7 linked regions of the Homo sapiens genome follow. The protein of the gene in region 6 purifies or fractionates together with the protein of the main gene of each other region. This does not show direct contact. Each region holds a gene or a part of one and is shown on either strand. Other genes may lie near its edges. The genes, in order: HIP1R, STEAP3, PTS, ZDHHC9, FLVCR1, TEX29 and PLAA.

Region 1 (3,500 bases), on a different chromosome or scaffold from region 6:
GGTAACTGGCTCCTACCTGGTGGGCTCTGTGCTGAGAGGCTCAGGCTCAGCACATCTCTGCCAGGACACAGAGCCTGGTAGCCCTGTCCTGCTGCACAGTTGGGGCCACACCTTTGGACACCTGCCCTCTGCTCTCCATGTCAGATCCTGAGCAGGCTCTTCCCAGGCACAAGGGTCCAACTCTGAGCCCACCTCCCACCCACTGGAACTGAATACCCATCAGGCTCGCCCAGCTGCACTGGCCAGACCTGGGGACTCAGGGAGGCTGCCCAAACTGCCTCTAACTCCCAATTTTCCCTTAAGGAGGCATTTGCTTCTTGCCCTCTTATGGAGAGCACTGAGTCACCCATGAGTTGTTTTGAAGCTGCCACCCAGAACAATCAGTTCTCCAGCCTGGAAGCTGAGCCCTCTGAGATTTCCTGTCCAACAGCGGCCGGGTTCCCTCGCTAGGAAGTCTGACGTGACTCAGAGGCTTTCTAGAGCAGAAAATGGCAGGACGACCCAAACCTTTCTTCCAGCTGGGCTCTGCAGATGGCCCAAGGCTGGGGCAGGAACCTGGCAAGGTGGCTCCTGTGCACACCTCCTCACCCTCCCTGTCTTGGGGCTGATGGAGTGACACTCACTGGATGGAAGAGATGGCTGAACCTGTATCCTGGATGTACCCGCTGGGGCCTGCCATGCTTTGGAGGGGCCAGGAGGCCCCATTACCTATCCCTGGAGGTGCAGGGACCCCAGGAGGGGCAGGGGCATTTCTTTTTCTTTTTTTTTTTTTTAAGACGGAGACTCACTCTGTTGCCCAGGCTGGAGTGTAGCGGCATGATCTCCGCCGCCCAGGTTCAAGTGATTCTCCTGCCTCAGCCTCCCAAGTAGCTGGGAATACAGGCGTGCGCCACCACGCCTGGCTAATTTTTATATTTTTTTAGTAGAGACAGGGTTTCACCATGTTGGCCAGGCTGGTCTTGAACCCCTGACCTCAAGCAATCTGCCTGCCTCGGCCTCCCAAAATGCTGGGATTACAGATGTGAGCCACTGCGGCTGGCCAGGGTCATTTCATAGTGATCAGTTGGTCTGATCACTCATGTCTTCTTTTTTCTTCTCGTCCCATCTCTGGGGACTTAGCAATACACTCAGACCCCCGCATCCCCTCTTTACGGCTCACCTGATTCAGAAAGCTTCAGCTCACAATCCATGTAATCAAACATCTCCACAGTGAGCTGGAAGCTACGCAAGAGAAGTGGGGGAAGAAATGAAAAAGGGTGGGTGGACCCACCCACTCGTCCTGAGACGCCCCCTCCAGTGGGGACGGGGGCACCGCCGACACCATGGCTCTGGTGAGACAGCGTGCCTCTGCCAGGACGACAGTCCTTCAAGTACACCCCACCCTTTTAACTTCACCCTCTGTCCCTGGGAGCGTGAGCATCAACCAACAAAGCCACGGACTCATTCAACCCCACTGCCCCATGCGGACGCCTGGGCGTGAGACGCGGTAGGAAGGAATGGGGAAGCCGAGGGGAACTGGCTATGTAGCCATGCAGAGTGACTCACATGTTGTTGACATCGGTCCCAGCTGCCTTCTCCAGTACCTCATCTGTCACCTCCAGGCCCGCGGGAAACTGGGGATGCTGTGGAGAGAACCCCCACCCAGCGGCCACTGAACCAGGGCCCCCCCACACCTGGCGGCCACCGAACCAGGGCTCCCCCCCACCCAGCGGCCACTGAACCAGGGCCCCCCACACCCAGCGGCCACCGAACCAGGGCCCCCCAACCCAGCGGCCACCGAACCAGGGGGCCCCCCCACCCAGCGGCCACCGAACCAGGGCCCCCCCCACCCAGTGGCCACCGAACCAGGGCCCCCCCCACCCAGCGGCCACCGAACCAGGGCCCCCCCACCCAGCAGCCACCGAACCAGGGGGCCCCCCCACCCAGCGGCCACCGAACCAGGGCCCCCCCCACCCAGCGGCCACCGAACCAGGGCCCCCCCCACCCAGCGGCCACCGAACCAGGGCCCCCCCACCCAGCAGCCACCGAACCAGGGGGCCCCCCAACCCAGCGGCCACCGAACCAGGGCCCCCCCCACCCAGCGGCCACTGAACCAGGGCCCCCCCAACCCAGCGGCCACTGAACCAGGGGGCCCCACGCTGGACCCTGCTCTTGGCAGACCCAGGCTGTGGCCCACATAGGTGGCAGAGGGCAGTGGAGGGGTTGGGAGGAGGGGAGCACCCGGCCAGCACAGCAGAGACTGAGGAAGCCCAGCGCTCATGTCCACAGAAACGCCTGGGGAAGCCCGTGCCCACGTCCACGGAAATGCCTGAAGTGTTCTAGGAGCTTCGTGATGCCCTGGCTTCCCCGTCTCCCCTTTAGTCATAGTTGGGACAAGAAGGTGAATGGAAAGACTCATGGAGAGGACAGATCCCACCCTCGATGTCCCAACATGTGCCATAACGTCACAGTGGGAAAAGCCCACGGGTCCCTCAGCCCCATGACTCCCCCGAGGAAACCACCTTGAGGTGGAAGGAGATCTTGGTCAGCAGCAGCTTGGTGTAGACATTCACCAGCTGTCCGTAGCGGTCATGCAAATGTCCCTGTGTGAAGACAGACAGGGTGAGGGGCCACGGCTCGTGAACACGTCCAAGAGTCCTCAAGGACCTGGGCACGAGAGTGACCCACCACCGGGCACTTCTTCATTCAACAAACGTCTTCTCCTGGCCTCCACCAACCACCCTCTCTGTCTCTAGCTTTTTCCCTTAATCTTCCTCCTTGTCATTCCTGCCAAAGAAACTCTTGTGAGAAGAGAGCTCTTTGTCCAGGGCGGCAGGCCAGTTCTGAGCAGGGACGCTTTATTAAAGTGCTGGTGCTGGCAGGGAGGCACGTCCCGACGGGCGCCTGGACACATCCTCCCTGCTCCCTCCTCCAGCCCCACGGCCCCTGCGGCCGGGCCAGCTGGGCCTGCATCTGCAGGTGGCACCATGGGCAGTGTTTTCCTCGCTTCAAGGGAAGTGAGTCCGGGCAGTGGTTCTGGGTTGGATAACGCCCTGGTCAGGCCTCCCTGTGGGTACCCGGTCCAGGGCCTGCCCTGCTCCTATGTCCCTGCCCAGGCAGACGAGCACCCCACAGTGCTCCAGAGAGAACCAGGCCAAGGCCCTCTGCCCACCAGGGACATCTCTAACTCCTGAGGTCTTGCAGTGCATCCAGATTGCAGGCCCCCCAGGGCTCTCAGGCCTTACTGTGTGTGTGCTCAAAATGCAGACCTCCAGTCCTGATTCTTCAGCAGCAGGTCTGGGGGAGCCCAGGAACCTGCGCCCTGCCACAGGCTCTCTAACCACCGAGGTGCCCGGGCTGTGGTCTTGCCACATTTCCCAACTCGTGAGGACTAAAGGGCCCGGGTGACTTCGACGCTGGAGGGCCCACTGGTTATGCGTGTGGAGCGCCCTGGGCCAGGCCCTCAAAGGCAGGCAGCATCTCCCCGTGCTGCCCCTCCCACTGTCGCCCCTGGGAAAACC
Region 2 (3,500 bases), on a different chromosome or scaffold from region 6:
CCTGCTGGCCCTGGGGCTCTTCGTCTGCTTCTATGCCTACAACTTCGTCCGGGACGTTCTGCAGCCCTATGTGCAGGAAAGCCAGAACAAGTTCTTCAAGCTGCCCGTGTCCGTGGTCAACACCACACTGCCGTGCGTGGCCTACGTGCTGCTGTCACTCGTGTACTTGCCCGGCGTGCTGGCGGCTGCCCTGCAGCTGCGGCGCGGCACCAAGTACCAGCGCTTCCCCGACTGGCTGGACCACTGGCTACAGCACCGCAAGCAGATCGGGCTGCTCAGCTTCTTCTGCGCCGCCCTGCACGCCCTCTACAGCTTCTGCTTGCCGCTGCGCCGCGCCCACCGCTACGACCTGGTCAACCTGGCAGTCAAGCAGGTACCCACCCCATGCCCTTCCTCCCTCTGGCAACTCAGCACATGCTTGTCCAGCACCTCCCCCCCCCACCAACCAGGTGCAGCCGATACCCACGGGTGCAGCCTTACCAGGTGCCAACTGCAGATTCTGTTCCAATGGGGCAGCACCCACATCCTCCTGCCCAAGATTTTGAGTATCAGTGAACAAAGCAGATGAAAATTCCTGCCCCCATGGGTACAGCCCAGTTGGGGCAGACTTAAACAAAATACAGCAGTGAGTCATAGTGGGCGTTGAGAGGATCAGGAGTGCTAAGGCGCAAAGGAAAGCAAGCGTGGGCGGTGGGGGTGCAGGTTTGAAGATGGTCCAGGAGGACTTGCAGAGTGAGTGCTATGTGAGCAGAGCTGGAAGGAGGGGAGAGGGGCCGGTGGCCTGCTGGGGTGATGTTGCAGGCCACGGGGCATAGTCCTTGGGCAGAAGTGTGCCTGGTACGTTGGAGGAGCAGCCAGGAGGCCCATGTGGCTAAAGCTGAACAAGGAGGGGGTGGCAGGCGAGGCCTGAGAGGAAGAGCTTCAGCCTTAGGCTCCGAGTGAAATAGGGAGCTGGTGAAGGTTTGAATTTAGGTGTTGATCGGCCTGACATTTTAAGTGGTTCTCTCTGGTTTTTGGCTGAGAACAGACTGTAGGAGGTCAAAGGCAGCTAGCTGCTGGGGCCAGCGAGGAAGCCGTGCATATGCCCAGATTTGAGGCAGTGGAGGCTGGAGGCAGTGGGAGCAGTGGAGGAGCAAGGAGATCCTGAAGGCACATGTGAAGCTGGAGTGCATGGAATTGCCGCTGGAATGGCCCCAGGGTTTTGTGGGTGATCAGGGATGACTCTGGGGTTTGGGTCTGAGCACCTGAAAGAGAGAGTTGCCATCAGCTGAGATGGGGAAGGCTGCAGGAGTGAGCATTCCAGGTTTAGGTTTGTTGTTGTTGTTGTTGTTCTTTGTTTGTTTTACTGGGGGTGGCACTAATCATTCATTTAGAAAATTCATATGGGGCTTGGTTGCCAGCAGGGTTCCTGGGAAGTGGAGGACCTTCAGGCCACACCAGGTGGGGACCCAGGCATCAGCTGGCACCTGTGCCCACAGAAACAGGCCCCTGATGCTCCCTCCTGGTCCACAAGCTCATGGGGCTTGATTCTTAGTCCCAAGCTCACATCTTCAGCAACACTGTCTTTATTTTCTCCAAATTAATTCCACCTCCAGTGCCCAGCCCCGGGGCTGGTTGATGCATAGGTCCTGCCCACTCCAGGACGCTAGTCACCCAACAGGGTTCAGCCCAGGTGCTGGTGAGACACTTCTCATCCACCCCTCATTCCAGCCTGGCAGCCCCTGCAGCTCCTGCTCCTGCTCAGAATGCAGGGACCTTGGTGAGGCTGGGCCCTCCCCTAAACACCTAGCACAGGGCCATCCCCTCCGAGCATGGGGGATTGGCAGGACTGGGAAGCAGGGCTGGGCACCTCCTGAGAACCACAGACCTCAGCCCCTACTCACTGTCAGGGTTGCTGCTTCTCTGCCAGCAGCTACTCGACTGCCCTCGTCCTTTGCCACCCACAGATACCGGCATCATTGCATCTGTGGGCTCAGAATTTCCTAAGACAAAGGAAGAACCCCAGACTTCAGGCAGAAAAGCAAGATGCTTGATGGAAATGAGAGGAAGGGAAGAAATCAGTCATGAACCCTTAACAAGAGCTCGCTGTGTTCCAGGAACCATTCTAAGAGCTTCGTACACCACTGTGAATTCATTTAACCCCATCTCATCCCTGTAGGCCAGGTGCTATTATATCCTTATTTCATAGATGAGAAATCTGAGGCACAGAGGGGTCAAGTAACTTGGCCAAAGTCACACAGTCAGTAAGTAGCACAGCTGGGATTCAGATCCAGCTATTTTCCAGATCCATGCTTATACCCACGCTGCTTTCTACAGGCAAACCAAATTCACAATTGAGTAAATGATTTCAGAACTAGGTCATTCATTCACTCATTCACTGAGCACCTACTCTGCCAGGCCCTGGGGCCACAGAAAGGAGTAAGAAAGACACAGACCATCTGGCTCCTCGCCTCAGCTGGTGTGGGGCGGTGTGGAGGCCTGAAGGCTAGAGGCTGGACTCCTGCTCTCCAGCATCGCTGACTGGAACAAAGATCTTGACCTTGAGCAAGTCACAGCCCCTCTTTTGTCCTCGAGGCCCTGATGTGTAGATCAAGCTCTCTCCTAGTGCTAATGTTTTCAATGCTCTTTGACGATATTTTCTTACTGACTTCTACAAAGCACCAGCCCCTTGGCAGGAGGCTCTGCGGGGCTCCCTGGGGACTAGTACAATGTTGCTGCCCAGGACGGGGCAGATCTGCATGGAGGAGCCCACTCCCTCTCCCCTGAGCTGGCAGGTATTTCCAGCAGCAGTGGGAAAGACGGGGACGGTGCCCACTACCCCCCAGGGTAAAAGACACACCACTGCTCCCTCCCTCCCCTGCCACCCTTCAACTGCCTTTGTCTAAATTCTCTGCCCTGCCAAGGCTCTCCCTGATATTCTGTTAACCCAATTCTGCCCTGATGCAAATACCAGGGCACAGAGGGGCGCATGCAAGGTAATTTTCCCCGTGTCCCAAAAATCTTTAGGGCTGCAGGCCCTGGTGAGGTTGCCAGGCAACCATCCCTCCCGCAGGACGAGATCAGTCAGAGACACCGAAGGCCTCTCATGCAAAGGGGCTTAAACTTGTTCTGCAGAGTTCTTAAGGGCAAAACCAGGGCTGATGTGGTTATGTCGGGGTGGGTGGTCGGAGGGAGGCAGGGGCTTGACACACAGCAGCCCAGATACGGGGAGGTGCCCAAGCCTGGGCACATCCAAGCAGATTCTGGATGGTCCATGGTAAGCCATGCCCGCGGTTCTGGGCCTGGGCACCTGAGGCTGTTCTGCCTTCAGCCCCAAACAGCAGGGACTCCTGGGTGGCTCAGGCTTGATGTGTGGCTTCTGCTGCCAGCCCATGGGCACCTCACCACAGGGTCCCCACATGGCCACTCACCACCCCAACTGCCCACTAGGCCCTTGGGTCAAGGGAGCACATTAGTCTAGGCACAAGAAACTCCTCCAAGATTTCCTTACAGCCCTGAGT
Region 3 (2,523 bases), on a different chromosome or scaffold from region 6:
AAAGAAAAAGAGAAAAGAAAAGAAAAGAAAGAAAAGAGACAAGACAGCAACATAAAAGGCCTCAACATATGACTAAATACTGGAGGAGGGCTTCTCTATGCTGTTTTCTGCTTTTGTATGCCTGAAGGACACCACACACTTTCATCAGTAAAAGTGGCTTATCATGGCATGTAGAGTAAAGTTAGAGCTCTACCGTGGGGGGAGGATTGCTTGAGTCCAGGAGTTCAAGGCTGCAGTGAGCTATGATTATGCCACTTGCACTCCAGCCTGGATGACAGAGACCCTGTCTCTAAAAACAAAACAAAAGAAAACAAAAAGCCCTGCATAAGAGGCTTTAATGGAGAAATTGGGACTGGAACTGGGATTGAAGATGAAGCAAGGATGCCCGTTTTCTTGTTATTCATGTGGAACATCCCTTCATTGGATATATTTCAATAACTGTTTGATCTAGGACTTACTCTTTTTGTATGATTCTAGTTTTTCTCAAGAAATGATTGCTGTTACTGTTATTAATGTACCCTTCTTCAAACTACGTCCTATGGAAAATTACATTTTTTTTTCACAGATGCTTAGATTTTTTGCAATAGCTAAAAGCAAAAACCTAGAAAGAATGAGGCAATTTAATCCTTGCTGATGATGAGGAAAAACATTATGTTAATATACACGAGCATTAGGGAGTAATAGTCTTTACATATATATATTTTTCCTTCTATGAGCCCAAGATCATTCTTAAATTATTCCTCATAGCAAAAATTTAGAACTACTTACATAATTTCAGTCTAGGTCTGCTTTATAAAATGTAGTAGTCACTGGATCTTTGTCCTTATGATATTGTGGCATTGTTCCGTAGGTGTGACAGTGTTATGGAAAAATATTTGTGCTAACTGTTTGGACAGGATTCACAAAGTGTTAAACTGAATTCTGAATTACAATGGCTTGTGTTGCGAGAAAGCTCCAGGAATTCTCTGCTTTTTGGTTTCTCACCTCTTTTTATTCAGTAACAAGGATTCCTAATCATTACCGACAGCTGGGCCTGACTTTATTTTACAACTTGAAATTTTGTAAAGTTGCCTTGTAAGACTCAAATCTAGTACTTACAAATATTTAGTTAGTGGCTAAGTGATAAGGTGAGGTTTAGAGGCATAAGTGGAACAATTTGGAATTTGAGTCGTAAATGGAGTCAATGATATTTTCCCTTGGTTTTGTCTCTAGGAGGCGATTATGCAGCCCCTTGATCATAAGAATCTGGATATGGATGTGCCATACTTTGCAGATGTGGTGAGGTGGGTGGCACTGTATCTTGCCTTATGTGGATTGTAAAACAAGAATTGATTTGAATACTTTGATTGTTGTGTGATTTCTGAAGTTTTAATTTAATGAAATCTTTCGAAACTAGAATTTCTATTTTCTGTAAATATTAAACATGAAATTTTATTGTTTGCATTTTGAATTTTTTTTGTTTTTGTTTTTTTTTCTTATAGCACGACTGAAAATGTAGCTGTTTATATCTGGGACAACCTCCAGAAAGTTCTTCCTGTAGGAGTTCTTTATAAAGTAAAAGTATACGAAACTGACAATAATATTGTGGTTTATAAAGGAGAATAGCTATTGGGGTTAGCATTGCACAAAGCCCAGTTTCTTTCTGTGTTTGAAAAAGATTTTGATCCCCTTGGAATATTAAGAGGTCAACACGTGATTGTTGTACGTACACATTGTGCTCTGGAGTGCCTATTTATTGAAATCATTGTAAGACCTGTTATAAATTTAAGTCTATTTAAAACTAAACTTGTAATATACATCCTGAAAATCATTTAGAGAGTCTTTTATTTATAAATTAAAAATCACTTCATTTTCACAAAATGTTTTGGTGTGGGATTATTTGAAAGCAAAAGAAATCTAATTTTGTTTTCTCCATTACCTCATTTTAGTATTAATTTTTACTTGGTATAATATACATGGTTAAAATGCTTATGTGACTTCGAGTAGGTGAATCTTAAAGAAATAAAATTCAAGTGACCACAAAGTCTGGAGACAATATATATATGTATATTTAATAGATTGAACTCTCTTGATTACTACTTGTTGGGTGTGCTGAAGGCATAAGTGGATTCAGTGAAAATTAGACACACAAATCATGTGAGGCATCTGTTGTGGATACACGTACAAATATTGATGGAAATGCTGCTTTAGAGCACATCATTCATTACAATTTTGCACAGCGTATTGAACTATGAATTGCTAGTGAGGAACAACACATTAAACATATCATGGAATATCAGTAAATTATTCAGTATACTCCTCTGAATTTCTGAACCTGATGGGCACTTGAATAATTTCAACTCAGAAGACTGCAGAATAATCATATTTTAAACTCTAAAAAATAGTCAGCATAAAAAGGATCAACTACCATATAAAATATTTCCTGTATATAGTTTTTCCTAATTGATCCCATTTTGTTCTGATTATTAAACTTACTATATGCTTGGCATTCTTCTCTGGGATCTTTTCCTCGTGACTAAATCC
Region 4 (3,099 bases), on a different chromosome or scaffold from region 6:
GGGTCAGAAGATTCTCCTGGCCACCAAGTGCCAGCATTGCCCACAAATCCTTTTAGGAATGGGACAGGTACCTTCCACTTGTTGTATTTATTAGTGTAGCTTCTCCTTTGTCTCCCATCCACTCTGACACCTAAGCCCCACTCTTTTCCCATTAGATATATGTAAGTAGTTGTAGTAGAGATAATAATTGACATTTCTCGTAGACTACCCAGAAACTTTTTTAATACCTGTGCCATTCTCAATAAGAATTTATGAGATGCCAGCGGCATAGCCCTTCACACTCTCTGTCTCATCTCTCCTCCTTTCTCATTAGCCCCTTTTAATTTGTTTTTCCTTTTGACTCCTGCTCCCATTAGGAGCAGGAATGGCAGTAATAAAAGTCTGCACTTTGGTCATTTCTTTTCCTCAGAGGAAGCCTGAGTGCTCACTTAAACACTATCCCCTCAGACTCCCTGTGTGAGGCCTGCAGAGGCCCTGAATGCACAAATGGGAAACCAAGGCACAGAGAGGCTCTCCTCTCCTCTCCTCTCCCCCGATGTACCCTCAAAAAAAAAAAAATGCTAACCAGTTCTTCCATTAAGCCTCGGCTGAGTGAGGGAAAGCCCAGCACTGCTGCCCTCTCGGGTAACTCACCCTAAGGCCTCGGCCCACCTCTGGCTATGGTAACCACACTGGGGGCTTCCTCCAAGCCCCGCTCTTCCAGCACTTCCACCGGCAGAGTCCCAGAGCCACTTCACCCTGGGGGTGGGCTGTGGCCCCCAGTCAGCTCTGCTCAGGACCTGCTCTATTTCAGGGAAGAAGATTTATGTATTATATGTGGCTATATTTCCTAGAGCACCTGTGTTTTCCTCTTTCTAAGCCAGGGTCCTGTCTGGATGACTTATGCGGTGGGGGAGTGTAAACCAGAACTTTTCATCTATTTGAAGGCGATTAAACTGTGTCTAATGCAAACTTCCTGCCTCCTCCTTCCCCCTTCCATTTCAAGAATATGTTTGTGTGTAGGGTGGGGGTGGGGGTTGGAAGGGGTTGCTTGTTACTCCCCAAACTTCCATTAACCAGGGCACCCTTGGGTTGGAGAGGTAGTTCCAAACTCTCCATTGATCTATACTACATTCTGGGCTGAAGGTTTTCTTATTCTGGACTATGAAGAAAGGACTTTCAAGGAGATATAGTGTGAACAGGATCAGGAAGGTAGAGGGATTATATTTACTTAAGAGAACAAGCTCTATATTAGGATATTGTTTTGAAGCAGATGGATGCCGTTAATTGCTAATAAGTCTTAGTTATTAACGCAGGCTCATCAGGGCCCCCCCTTGGAAATATTTGATCAGTGGTCTTTTACAAGTGATGGTATATATTTCTTTCTAGGTGGTGTATAATCAAGACTCCCTATCAATTCCCATCTCATACTTCCCAGTTAATTGGAATTAATGAAATTTGGCTGCTCCCAGACCTTTTTCCATGTCTTCCTTTTTCCTTTTAACAGGATTTAAGTTGAGCATTCTTGAGAGAGAGAGAGAGAGAGAGATTGGAAGAGAGATGGGGAGAGACTGACTCAGATCCCTCTCCTGTCTGCTTCTTTTTCTGGTTCTCTCAGTTTTTTTTCTTGAAGTTATAAAGCCAAACCTGGAGAATTTGTAAGTTGTTAGGTTTCCCCAGGTAACTTGGCACTCATATGAACCCCATTTTAATAAGTACTCAGCCCATCTCCTCTCCTGGGCTCAGATGGCTCTCTCTCCTCCCTCACCTTACCTCAAGTGTTCTCCTGAGGACCCTTAGGTCAGACAGAGAAGCTTTCTCTTTCTGATGGGAAGGGTCAAAGTGGAAATCTCTTATCTCTAGTGTGAAATGATTTTCTGCTTTTTCATACTCCCTGCCCTCTTTCTTTTCCTTAATAAATCTTCCATGTTTAAGATGTTGGCCTGAAGATCTGTCCCATTCATACCATGCACCAGCTGGGACTGTCCCTATCTGATCAGAGGGGAGATTAAAGAATCAATGTTCCCAGGGGAAAAGGGCCTTAAATTGTTTGGTCTTTTCAATGGCTGACACTGTCTCCAACTCTCCCCTTCCTCCTTCTTCCTCAAGCTTCCTATGCACCCTACTTTCCCAGGCCAGGATGGTTGGCACTGATCCCAAACCTCTGGGGGCAGGTGGAAATTGGCTGTGGTGAGCCATTTCTTCATGTCCATTCAGCTCTGAGGCCTTCCTGGCCCTAGCTGAGATCATCATCTCCTCCTTTGCTTTTACCCCAGGAGTGAGGTTGGGTTAGAGGTGGATTCTGATTCCGTAGCAGCTAAATTCCATTCTCCCTGTCCTGACCATCCTGCCTTTACCCATAAAGCACCCGTTCCTACTGACCAAATCTCTTTACTTTGTTGGAGAAAAAAAGTATTTTGTTTTTAAATCTATTTTCTAATTTAAATGCAATTTAATATGTAAATCTCTGCACTTTTGTGTGAGCCTACAAATGTGTATGTGTTGGGGGTTTTTCACTCTCTGGTATTTCTTAATAAAGAAATCTTTCTTTTGGGGGGAAGCCAATTAATGAAGGAGCCTTGAATGGTTTTAGAAATACAGGGCTGTCTGTTTCTTTGTGCTTCTGCCTCATTTCTTTACTTGTGCCTAGTGTGAGTGATTGGACTCCCTCCCCCACCTTTTGACCCCCTTCCTCTGAGAGGGCCCTCAACTTAGTGGGGGCAGAGAGAAGGACCTGTCCTGTATCTGGTACCCCTCTGGGACCACTTGGATTGGCTCTAGTAGTAACCTAGCAACCCAGCCCCCTCCCCTCTCCCCATGGCCTGGCCCTGTTAGTCCTTTTCTTCCAGCTCAGTTCATTTTATACTCCTGAGTTGGGGCCAGGCCAGGGGAAATCACCAAGGGAGCACAGTAAATGGTTTTAAAAAAATGATAATTCGTTCTCATGCCTTGGTGCTACTAAAGAAGAGTCATGTTCCCAGTAATTCAAAAAGCATTTGTGTCAGTTTGGAGAATACATTCTAGGAATCTCTTGCTGTTCTTGGTGATAGGCTTTAGAAACAGTGTCAAAGGCTACAACTCTGAATATCATTTGTTTTAAAGGATGCAAGCCCAGCTCAC
Region 5 (3,500 bases), on a different chromosome or scaffold from region 6:
TCTCCTGACCTTGTGATCCACCCGCCTCGACCTCCCAAAGTGCTGGGATTACAGGCGTGAGCCACCGCGCCCAGCAACAAGTGTTTCAATACTCTATGTATTGTATTATTTTATTGGTCACATTTATTTCAATTCTGAGAACTTGGATACCTTATGAGCCCCTTCTTTCTAACAGTACTCATACCTACCACTTCCGAAGGAATTATTTCTATTCTAAAAAGAGCCATTTCTGAGAAATATTTGACTTTTGATAGACTTTATCTTGTTCTTTTTTTTTTTTTTTTTTAGGTGGGGTCTCACTCTGTCACCCAGGCTGGAGTGCAGTGGCACCATCTTGGCTCACTGCAACTTCTGCTTTCCAGGCTCAAGTGATTCTCCCACCTCAGCCTCCTGAGTAGCTGTGACCACAGGTGTGCGCCACCACACCCGGCTAATTTTTTGACTTTTTGATAGAGACAGTGTTTCACCATGTTGCCCAGGCTGATTTTGAACTCCTGAGGTCAGGCAATCTGCCCACCTCAGCCTCCCAAAGTGCTGGGATTACAGGCATGAGCCACTGCACCTGGCCTATGTTGTTCTTTTTTTATGTTGTGGGCTTAAATACAAAAACAAAAAAGTAGTTCTTTCCAATCAAAAAATTATTGTTGAGCATAAGGCTTTATTTTGGTAAGAACTTTTTGGCTAAAGTACGCCCAGACTACAGTACCACTTAACTGTAATATAATGCATAATGTGAAAATGCTGGTTTGACACAATGTCTTATGCCTGTAATCCCAGCATTTTGGGAGGCCAAGGCGGGTAGATTGCTTGAGGCCAGGAGTTCGAGACCAGCTTGGGCAACATGGTGAAACGCCATCTCTACTGAAAATACAAAAAATAGTCAAGTGTGGTGGTGGGCACCTGTAATCCCAGCTACTCAGGAGGCTAAGGAAGGAGAATTGCTTGAACCCAGGAGGCAGAGGTTGCAGCGAGCTGAGATAGCGTGCCACTGGTCTCCAGCCTGGGTGACAGAGCAAGACGCTGTCTAAAAAAATAAAAAAAAAAGAATATACTCTGTTAATTGTACATTATATGGAACCACCAAAAGGCTAATACCAAAGAAAATGAATGATACCAACTGGGAGACTAAGAAAGGGGTTTCAGAGGCAGCATATTTTGCTCTGGGAGTGAAAAGAATCACCACATTTTGTAACATGCCAAAACTTACCCCTGTACTTGGAAATGAATGAATGAAACTATTAAGGAATAAATGAATGAAATATGGAACTGTGTCCCGTGTACCTTTCAAGGCTCAAGATATATTTGATATTATTAGTCTAAACGCTACCAAAAGTATCTCTAATCTTGAAATTCTCCATATTCTTCCATAATTTAAGACAGCACTTGCCTTAGCTTCATTATTTTAAAATGATAGCTTAGAGTGAAACCTACTTGATATATAGATGAAGGGAGCATATGTAAAGGATTATATTTCTTAAGTCTTTCATCCGTTATACATTTAGAAAACTTGATAGGCATAGATGTGTGTTCTTTGCCACTGTGGCTTCCTTCTCAGGGTAACTGCCATTCATTCACCAAACTCCTGTTGTGTGCATCTTTCTTAGATGAAAATTATGGCTGGCATTATGTGATCCCTGTTCTTAAGATGTTTGTGGTCTAAATGGAGCAAATAAGGCATTCACATGTGAAAAGTTAAATAATATAACAAACTAAAATAGATGTCATAAGTTTTATAGTGCCAGTATGATAAGGGAATTTGGAAGAAAGAGAGACTCTTATAAACTGGTGTCGTTACAGAAGGCATTTGGAAGAGGTAGAATTTGATCTGAATCTTGAAATGTGAATAGGGAACTATCCCATTTGGTGGCATAAAAATGATTTTATTCCTATAAAAGGATCCTATCTGAGCATTCGATATGGTGTGGTTTTCTGGTGCTGCTGAATCTTAAATTAAAAATGCTTTAAAATTTGTGCTTTGGTGGATACATATTTCCATGGACAAGAAGGGGTGAACTTTGAAAAACAAAGATTCATTACTGAACAGGTAAGAGTGATGATTTTTGTATTCCTAGGAGAATCAGACAAAATACTAACAGCTTTGTTGTTTTTGTTTTAGACAGACTACTCTGATAGTTTATATTTTGTCTTTTATTGGAATGGTTATCTTTACTTTCACATTGGACCTTAGATATATTATCATCGTGTTTGTTACTGGAGGGGTGCTTGGGTAAGTATCAGATGTGTTTAGGAGGAATGATAGCATGCTGTTATAATTCTGAAGTATTATTACTCTGGTCTTTAATTTTTTCAGTTCATCCAAAGTTTCTTCAATATTTTAAACTTTAAAGGATTCATTCTATGCATATAAACATGTAATTCTTAAGAACTATTAAAAATTATTTAAAATTGGTTTTTGGTATACCATAGGTAAAAAATGGATGAGCCTTACTTAATCTGTGTAACTTTATTTGGTTACAATCAACTTATAAAACTAGAAGTAAATTTTTCTCAGAAAAAAATGTGTATTTGTTGCTTCCAGTTCTGTAACCTTGAGCTGATTGGTCAATGATAATAGTTCCTTACTTTGACATAGCAACTTCAAAATATTCACTTATTTGGTCATTAGAATAAGCCCGAGAGGCAGAATGATTGCATCAGTATGTGATTGTGACTTTCTGGTAGTTCTTTCTGTAATTCTGGATTTATTTTCCTAGCTTCTTCATGACTGGTTACCTCCCTTTGGGTTTTGAATTTGCTGTTGAAATCACTTACCCTGAATCTGAAGGTACTTCATCTGGTCTTCTTAATGCTTCTGCACAGGTAAACCTCTGATTTCTCTAAACCTGAGATGATTATTATACCAGATATTCTAGTGAGTAATGAGTTTGACCATGGTTTTATTTGTTGTTGTTGTTGTTTTGTTTTTTGGAGACAGAGTCTTGCTCAGCCATCCAAGCTGGAGTGCAGTAGTGCAGTCATGGCTAACTATAGCCTCAAACTCCTAGGCTCAAGCAATCCTCCCCCCTCTGCCTCCAGAGTTTTTGGGACTGCAGGTGCACACCAGCATGCCCAGCTAAATTTTTTTTGTTATTTTTTGTAGAGATGGTGTTTTGCCATGTTGTCCAGGCTGGTCTCGGACTCCTGGGCTCAAGCAATTCGCCTACCTCAACTCCCAAAGTGCTAGGATTACAGTGGGTGTGAGCCACTGCACCCAGCCTGACCGTGGTTTTTGTTTTAACAATTCAACTTTTCAATGAATGTTTCTAGAAACCAAATCATATAACCAAAATAAGAAAAGTTCTGGTGAAAACTTTATACTTGCTTTAAATAATTTAACTTAATAACGAATGATTTTTCTTATTGTATTTTAGATATTTGGAATTTTGTTCACATTGGCTCAAGGAAAGCTCACATCAGACTATGGTCCTAAGGCAGGGAACATTTTTCTCTGTGTCTGGATGTTTATAGGCATCATATTAACAGGTAAATTAGGGCGTTTG
Region 6 (3,500 bases):
AGCACCTGTGCTTGTTGATGAAAATCATAACCCGTGTTTAGTGAGCACCTGTGCTTGTTGATGAACATCATAACCCGTGTTTAGTGAGCACCTGTGCTTGTTGATGAACATCATAACCCGTGTTTAGTGAGCACCTGTGCTTGTTGATGAACATCATAACCCGTGTTTAGTGAGCACCTGTGCTTGTTGATGAACATCATAACCCATGTTTAGTGAGCACCTGTGCTTGTTGATGAAAATCATAACCCGTGTTTAGTGAGCACCTGTGCTTGTTGATGAAAATCATAACCCGTGTTTAGTGAGCACCTGTGCTTGTTGATGAAAATCATAACCCGTGTTTAGTGAGCACCTGTGCTTGTTGATGAAAATCATAACCCGTGTTTAGTGAGCACCTGTGCTTGTTGATGAAAATCATAACCCGTGTTTAGTGAGCACCTGTGCTTGTTGATGAAAATCATAACCCGTGTTTAGTGAGCACCTGTGCTTGTTGATGAAAATCATAACCCGTGTTTAGTGAGCACCTGTGCTTGTTGATGAAAATCATAACCCGTGTTTAGTGAGCACCTGTGCTTGTTGATGAAAATCATAACCCGTGTTTAGTGAGCACCTGTGCTTGTTGATGAACATCATAACCCGTGTTTAGTGAGCACCTAAGACTCTTAAGAGCTCTGCTCAGCCTTTTCAGCCCTTGAAGCCACTGACGATGTAAGTGAACTTACTGTCCCCGGACTGGGATGATTGACGCAGCATCGAGGGGGTCCCGAGGCTGATGGATGGGGCAGTGAGGCTCTAACTCAGGCTCCCAGTTGTCTCAGAGTCCCTGAACCCAAGGCTGCCTGCATCTCTTGGCCTGTGGCCTGCGTCCTCATTGCAGGGTGTCAGGGTTTGGAGGTGTCTCAGAGATGAGTCCACTCCCTCTCATTTTAATGGTGAGGAAATGCAGACCCGGGGGGCCAAGGAAGCAGGTGGCTATTCCCAGGGCAGGGCTGGAATCCAGCATCTCACTCCCCGGCCACCACCTTCACCATGAGCCCACTCTGTGTGCATACAAGCCCCTGAGATTATTTGAGTCTCTTTGTCCAGGAATGAGTAAAGCCATTTTCCTACCATGAGTGGTGCTGTATGCTGTCTTATGTGTGTTAATCATGAAGATGAGCCGGCAGTAGCCTGCAGTGCAACACACACCTTCCCCCTGCCCGGAGCTGTCTTTGGGAGTCTAGCTGCCTCATACAGCCATCTGTTTGGAGCCTGCACAAGAAACTAAAATGAGGCTGGATGTGGTGGCTCATACTTGTAATCTCCCAGCACTTTGGGAGGCTGAGGTGGGAGGATTACTTGAGCCCGGGAGTTGGAGGCTGCAGTGAGCCGTGTTTGTGCCATTGCACTCCAGCCTGGATGACAGATCAAAACTGTCTCAAAAAAAAAAAAAAAAAAAAGAGAGAGAGAAAGAAACGAAAATGAGAACTATTACATCAAAGCATTTACCTTAAAAAATAAGTATGCATGATCAGGAACCTGTGTTTTCAGAGGGATGTCCTGGTGGGTGGGAGGGAGGAACTGGAGAGTTTTCCATCTGTAACTTCCCTGACTGTGATAAAACCCTCTTCCCATCAGAGTCATTCAGGAGAGCAGGAAAGAAAAGGCCATCCCTGTGGATGTCGCGCTGCCACAGAAGTCCAGCGAAAAGGCGGAGTTGGCCTCATCCAGCAGCAAGTTAGGGCTGAAGCCTGCGAGTCCTGGGCCTCCAAGTGCTGGGCCCTCGATGAAGAGTGACGAGGATAAGGATGATGGTGAGAAGCTTCTGGAATGATCCTCAGCCTAAGGTCAAGGGCGTGGCTCTGTTCCCTCGGGAGACCTTCCCTGGGAAGGGGCTCAACATCTACACAGGCCCTTCAACCTCAGTGATCAGTGTTGCAGTTTGTTCAAAATTGTAATGTACCCAACATTGGAGGTTCAGGTTTGCAGGGTGGATGTGGCTGTCAGTGTGAGTTTCCTTCTGTGAGTCTTGTCCTCCCCCTTCCCATCCCCTTTTGCCTCCCTGTCATTTCACCCTCTGGCGGGGCCCTCATTGTTAGTGTGGGAAGCTCCTGGGGAGGGGGCAAGAGTCCTGCAGAAACTGCACATTTGATCAGGTGACTTCCTGTGGGGAGGCTGCAGGGCTGCCATGGGTACTCTCTGTGGCACCCTGGCCACGTGGTGGTCTTGGTTGTGCAGGGAGGCTGCCAGGCTGCTGTGGGTATTCTCTGTGGTGCCCTGGCCGCCTGGTGGTCGTGGATGTGCGGGGAGGCTGCAGGGCTGCTGTGGGTACTCTTTGTGGTGCCCTGGCCACGTGGTGGTCGTGGTTGGAGAGGTGGACGATCACTCTATGCCTGCTTCGGTTTCCAGGAAGGAAAGTTTCTCATATGTTGGTTTACCTGCTTTGGGGGCCCTTGGAGGTTGCCGGTTGCTTTTCCTAGATCAGCACCTTGCCAGGTTAGAGAAAGAAACATCTCAAATGGTAATCCTTATCTTCAGAGATGTTTGTACAGGATACAAACGGCCTGGCCTTACCCATTGTTACCAAATAGACTTGGCTTTACAGGGACCATCAGGAAAATCAGGAGGCAGGGTAAGAGGGCAACCCACACTTGATTTCAGATCTGGAATGCCTGGCCCCTAACTGAGGCTGCGTCTGTGCAAATGAGGCTTTCCTGCAGGACAGATGTTTGCCTGGTTAAGGGAGCCTCCTGTGTAGAGAGATGATGTGGGAGGAAGAGTGTTTTACTGTCCCCTAGAATGCAATGAGAAACATAGGAGGATACGGCCATCCCCAAAACTGGCTTTTGAATCAATCATTGCCAATCAGACACCATGTAGATGGGTTCAAAGATCCTGATGAAATCTTTTCGGGACTGCTGAATATTCCATTTGAAAAAACAATTCTTCTTTTCTAAAAATCTAGTAACAGGGACAATAACAGAAGCCGAAGAAACTGAGGACTGACTGAGACGCATGAAGAAGTGGAGATTGTCAGAATTATCCAAATGAAATGGTACAGCAGGTGCACTGTTAACAGTGTGATGGAATGACCACCCAAAGAGAAAAAAATAAAGGTATTTTGAAAATTGCTTCTCGTCCGATGTTGCTTATTCATTGCTATATTTTTATCTTAGGAGAGAGAAAGCCTGTGGGGTAGGAGAGTGGGAACCTGAACTTTCAGTTTTTAATGGCACTGCTTGTCACTAATATTAACACTATGGGGGCTCACAGCATGGGCTCAAGGTGGTGTCCTCGAGGTCTTCTTTTCAGAAGGCAGGCTGCACTTTCACCAAGAGTGGGCTGCCACACAGACACAGGCGGTTCAAGACTCTGGCATTTGGCTTTGCTAGGACTCAGCCGTGCTGCGAGGGAGGAGCAGCGTCTGGATCTGGATCTGAGAGGCCCCAAAGCATAGGCCGTAGCTGCCTGAGAGCCCCTCATGCAAGGCAGTGCGCTCAGTCCCAGAGTGGCCGACAGATGCT
Region 7 (3,500 bases), on a different chromosome or scaffold from region 6:
TTAGTTCCTGCCTCTTTGTCCTCACCTCTGGAGGTATATAGTGCTGTTAATTCTTTTCCTCCAGTTTTTTTATTGTGATACAATACACAAAACATAAAATTTGCCATCTTAACCATTTTAAACTGTACAGTTCAATGGTATTAAGTATATTCATAATGTGTAACCATCACCACCATCCATCTTTTAACTCTTTTTATCTCTTTACACTGAAACTGTACCTGTTTAAGCAATAACTCATTGTCTCCACCCCCAGACCCTGGCAACCACGATTCTACTTTATGTCTGTATGATTTTGACAGCTCTAAGTTCCACATATAAGTGGGATCATACAGTATTTGTGTTTTTATAACTGGCTTATTTCGTTTAGCACAATGTCCTCAAGGTTCTTCCATGTTGTAGCATATGTCAGAATTTCCCTCCTTTTTAAGGCTGAATAAAATTTCATGTTTATACCACATTTTGTTTATTCATCCATTGATGGACACTTAGGTTGATGCCACATTTGAGCTATTGTGAATAATGCTACTATGAATATGGTTATACACATATCTCTTTAAGATCCTGCTTTCATTTCCATTGGGAATATATCCAGAAATGGAATTGCTGAGTCATATGGTAATTTTATTTTTAATTTTTCTAGGAATTTCCATACTTTTTTCTGTAGCAGGTGTCTTTGCTTTCACGTAGTATATTCTGTATGTCTGTTAGTTCTAGTTGATTTATTTTGTTAAGTCCTCTTTTTCCTTACATGTTTTCTGTCTGATTATTCTATCCATTATTGAGATTGAGATATTGAAGTCTTCAACTATTATTGTAGAACTATCTATATATCACTTCAATTATGTCAGTTTTTGTTTTATATATTATGTGCATAAATGTTTATAATTGTTATATCTTCTTCCTGTACCGAACTTTTTATTAATATATAATATCCTTCTTTGTCTCTTGTTTTCTTTTTTTGATTTAAGGTCAATTTTGTCTAATGTTAATATAGCTGCTCCTGCTTTCTTTTGTTTGCTGTTTTCATGGAATATCCTGTTTCATCCTATCACTTTCAGTATATTTGTGTCTTTGGATCTAAAGTGAGTCTCATAAACAGCACCGAGCTGGATTATGTTTTTTAAAATGGTTTCTGCCAATCTTTGTCTTTTGATTGGAGAATTTAATTCATTTACATTGAAAGTAATCACCGATGCCATTTTGCTGTCTGTTTTCTATATGCCTTAAAGTTTGTTTGGTTTTTTTTTTTTTTTTTTTTGGTCTCTCATCTCCTGCATTACTGTCTTCTTTTGTGTTTAGTTGATTTATTTATTTATATGTTTGTTTATTTATTTATTTTATTTTTATCTTTTTTTGAGACGGAGTTTCAGTCTGTGGCCCAGGCTGGAGTGCAGTGGCGCAATCTCGGCTCACTGCAAGCTCCACCTCTTGGGTTCACGCCATTCTCCTGCCTCAGCCTCCCGAGTAGCTGGGACTACAGGCCCCTGCCACCACACCTGGCTAATTTTTTGTATTTTTAGTAGAGATGGGGTTTCACCGTGTTAGCCAGGATAGTCCCGATCTCCTGACCTTGTGATCCGCCGGCCTCAGCCTCCCAAAGTGCTGGGATTACAGGCGTGAGCCACGGCGCCCGGCCTAGTTTATTTATGTTTAAATTCCTTCCCCATTTCCTTAGTGTATATTCTATTTTTGTGTGTGTTTACCATGAGGATTATATTTAATATCCTAAAGTTGTAATCCTCTAATTTGAATGTATACATTTAACTTCAATAACAAACAAAAATTCTTCTTTATAGCTCCATCTTCACCCCTTTTGGTTGTTGGTGTCACAGAATTACATCTGTATGTACTCTGTGTCCTAAAAACATAAAGTAATAATTACTTTAAATGCCTTAATTTCTGAAATTATGTAGGAAAAATTTGGAGTTACAAACCAAAGTTACAATATCATTAGCTTTTAGGCTAATTTTTTTAATGTAATGTTTCTTAAATGACATAGAAATCAAAAGGTAGAGTTATAAACCACTATCGTATTTACCATTATTGAGATCTTTATTTCTTCATATTGCTTCAAGTCTGTCTAGTGTGTTTTCATTTCACTGTGCGAGAAGGCTCCTTTAAGCATTTCTTACAGGGAGGTCTCATGGCAGCAAACTCCCTCACCATTTTTTTTTTTTTTTTTTTTTTTAAGAAATGGTGTCTTACTCTTTTGGCCCAGGCGGGCATACAGTGGTACAGTCATAGCTCACTTAAGTCTCAAACTCCCAGGCTCAAGGGATCCTCTCGCCTTAGCCTCCCAAGTAACTGGGACTACAGGTGTGTACTATCACACCTAGCTAATGCTCCAAAAAAATTTTTCAAGATGGGGTTTCGCTATGTTGACCAGGCTGGAATGCAGTGGCTGTTCTTGAGTGTGGTCGCAGCACTCTGCAGCCTCCAACTTCTGGGCTCAAGCGGTTCTCCTATCTCAGTCTCCTGAGGTGCTGGGACTACAGGTGTGTGCTACTGCACTCAGTTTGACCTCCAAAGTTTTTGATGAGAAATCTACTAATTATATTATTGAGGATCCCTTGTATGTGATAAGTTACTTCTTTCTTACTGCTTTCAAGATTCTTTGTATCTCCCTTTCTTAAGTTTGAATATAATGTGACTTGGTGTGGGTCTCTTTGAATTTATCTTCTTGGAGTTTGTTGAGTTTCTTTGGATGTTTATATTCATGTCTTTCATCAAATTTGGGATGTTTCCAGCCATTATTTCTTCAGATATTCTCTCTGCTCCCTTTCCCCTCTCTCTAGGACTGCCACAATCTGTATGCTGGCCTACCTCATGTTGTTCCACAAGTCCCTTAGGCTCTGTTCATTTTTTTTTTTTTCAGTCTTTTTTTGTGTTCTTCAAACCTGATAATTTCTACTGTCCTATGTTCAAGTTTGCTAATTATTTCTTCTTGCTTGAATCTGTCTTCAAGTTGTCTAGTGAATAATTTCATTTCAGTTATCATACCTTTCATCTTCATAATTTCTTTTTGGTTTCTTTATAGGTTTTCTGCCTCTTTACTGATACTTCAGTTTTCTTCATGCATAATTTTCTTGACTTTCTCCATCTTCCTTTAGTTCTTTGAGCATGTTTAAAACAGTTGTTTTAAAGTCTCTGTCTAGTAGATCTGCTGCCAGGTCTTTTTCAGGGACAGTGTCTATTGACTTAATTTTTCCTTTGAATGGGCCATACTTTTCTGTTTATTTGTATGCGTGTGATTTTTTTGTTGTGGTTGAAAGTGAACATTTAATCTAATAATATAACTCTAGAAATCATATTCTTCCCCTTTTCCAGGGTTTGCTGTTTTTTGTTATGTTTTTGTGTATTATCTTTTTGTTGTTGTTGTTGTTGAAGGGTGTCTTTGTTTCAAATATCGGGCTAAGATGTAAACTTAGTCTTCTCAGTCTTTTCTGAGCCTGTGCTTTTCCCTGGGCATGCACTTTCACTTTCTAATTTTTTCCATATAT

Evidence for each region.
Region 1: the proteins of TEX29 (region 6) and HIP1R purify together in Homo sapiens (affinity purification with mass spectrometry; 3 studies listed by BioGRID and IntAct, with this or other methods). This does not show direct contact.
Region 2: the proteins of TEX29 (region 6) and STEAP3 purify together in Homo sapiens (affinity purification with mass spectrometry; 3 studies listed by BioGRID and IntAct, with this or other methods). This does not show direct contact.
Region 3: the proteins of TEX29 (region 6) and PTS purify together in Homo sapiens (affinity purification with mass spectrometry; 3 studies listed by BioGRID and IntAct, with this or other methods). This does not show direct contact.
Region 4: the proteins of TEX29 (region 6) and ZDHHC9 purify together in Homo sapiens (affinity purification with mass spectrometry, with the first as the bait; one large-scale study listed by BioGRID). This does not show direct contact.
Region 5: the proteins of TEX29 (region 6) and FLVCR1 purify together in Homo sapiens (affinity purification with mass spectrometry; 3 studies listed by BioGRID and IntAct, with this or other methods). This does not show direct contact.
Region 7: the proteins of TEX29 (region 6) and PLAA purify together in Homo sapiens (affinity purification with mass spectrometry, with the first as the bait; one large-scale study listed by BioGRID). This does not show direct contact.

The regions. Positions count from the first base shown.
Region 1 is NC_000012.12:122,848,957-122,852,456, reverse strand, and holds part of HIP1R (huntingtin-interacting protein 1-related protein), read right to left. Parts: intron 2,583-3,500; coding exon 2,502-2,582; intron 1,623-2,501; coding exon 1,546-1,622; intron 1,222-1,545; coding exon 1,160-1,221; intron 1-1,159. UniProt on the Homo sapiens protein: Component of clathrin-coated pits and vesicles, that may link the endocytic machinery to the actin cytoskeleton. Binds 3-phosphoinositides (via ENTH domain).
Region 2 is NC_000002.12:119,247,834-119,251,333, forward strand, and holds part of STEAP3 (metalloreductase STEAP3), read left to right. Parts: coding exon 1-373; intron 374-480; exon of another isoform or gene 481-1,238; intron 1,239-3,500.
Region 3 is NC_000011.10:112,231,951-112,234,473, forward strand, and holds the end of PTS (6-pyruvoyl tetrahydrobiopterin synthase), read left to right. Parts: intron 1-1,212; coding exon 1,213-1,283; intron 1,284-1,481; coding exon 1,482-1,605; 3' UTR 1,606-2,023; downstream 2,024-2,523. UniProt on the Homo sapiens protein: Involved in the biosynthesis of tetrahydrobiopterin, an essential cofactor of aromatic amino acid hydroxylases. Catalyzes the transformation of 7,8-dihydroneopterin triphosphate into 6-pyruvoyl tetrahydropterin.
Region 4 is NC_000023.11:129,802,788-129,805,886, reverse strand, and holds the end of ZDHHC9 (palmitoyltransferase ZDHHC9), read left to right. Parts: 3' UTR 1-2,599; downstream 2,600-3,099. UniProt on the Homo sapiens protein: Palmitoyltransferase that catalyzes the addition of palmitate onto various protein substrates, such as ADRB2, GSDMD, HRAS, NRAS and CGAS. The ZDHHC9-GOLGA7 complex is a palmitoyltransferase specific for HRAS and NRAS.
Region 5 is NC_000001.11:212,885,775-212,889,274, forward strand, and holds part of FLVCR1 (choline/ethanolamine transporter FLVCR1), read left to right. Parts: intron 1-2,116; coding exon 2,117-2,227; intron 2,228-2,714; coding exon 2,715-2,820; intron 2,821-3,371; coding exon 3,372-3,483; intron 3,484-3,500.
Region 6 is NC_000013.11:111,341,142-111,344,641, forward strand, and holds the end of TEX29 (testis-expressed protein 29), read left to right. Parts: intron 1-1,614; coding exon 1,615-1,790; intron 1,791-2,941; coding exon 2,942-2,982; 3' UTR 2,983-3,107; downstream 3,108-3,500.
Region 7 is NC_000009.12:26,937,243-26,940,742, reverse strand, and holds part of PLAA (phospholipase A-2-activating protein), read left to right. Parts: intron 1-3,500. UniProt on the Homo sapiens protein: Plays a role in protein ubiquitination, sorting and degradation through its association with VCP. Involved in ubiquitin-mediated membrane proteins trafficking to late endosomes in an ESCRT-dependent manner, and hence plays a role in synaptic vesicle recycling.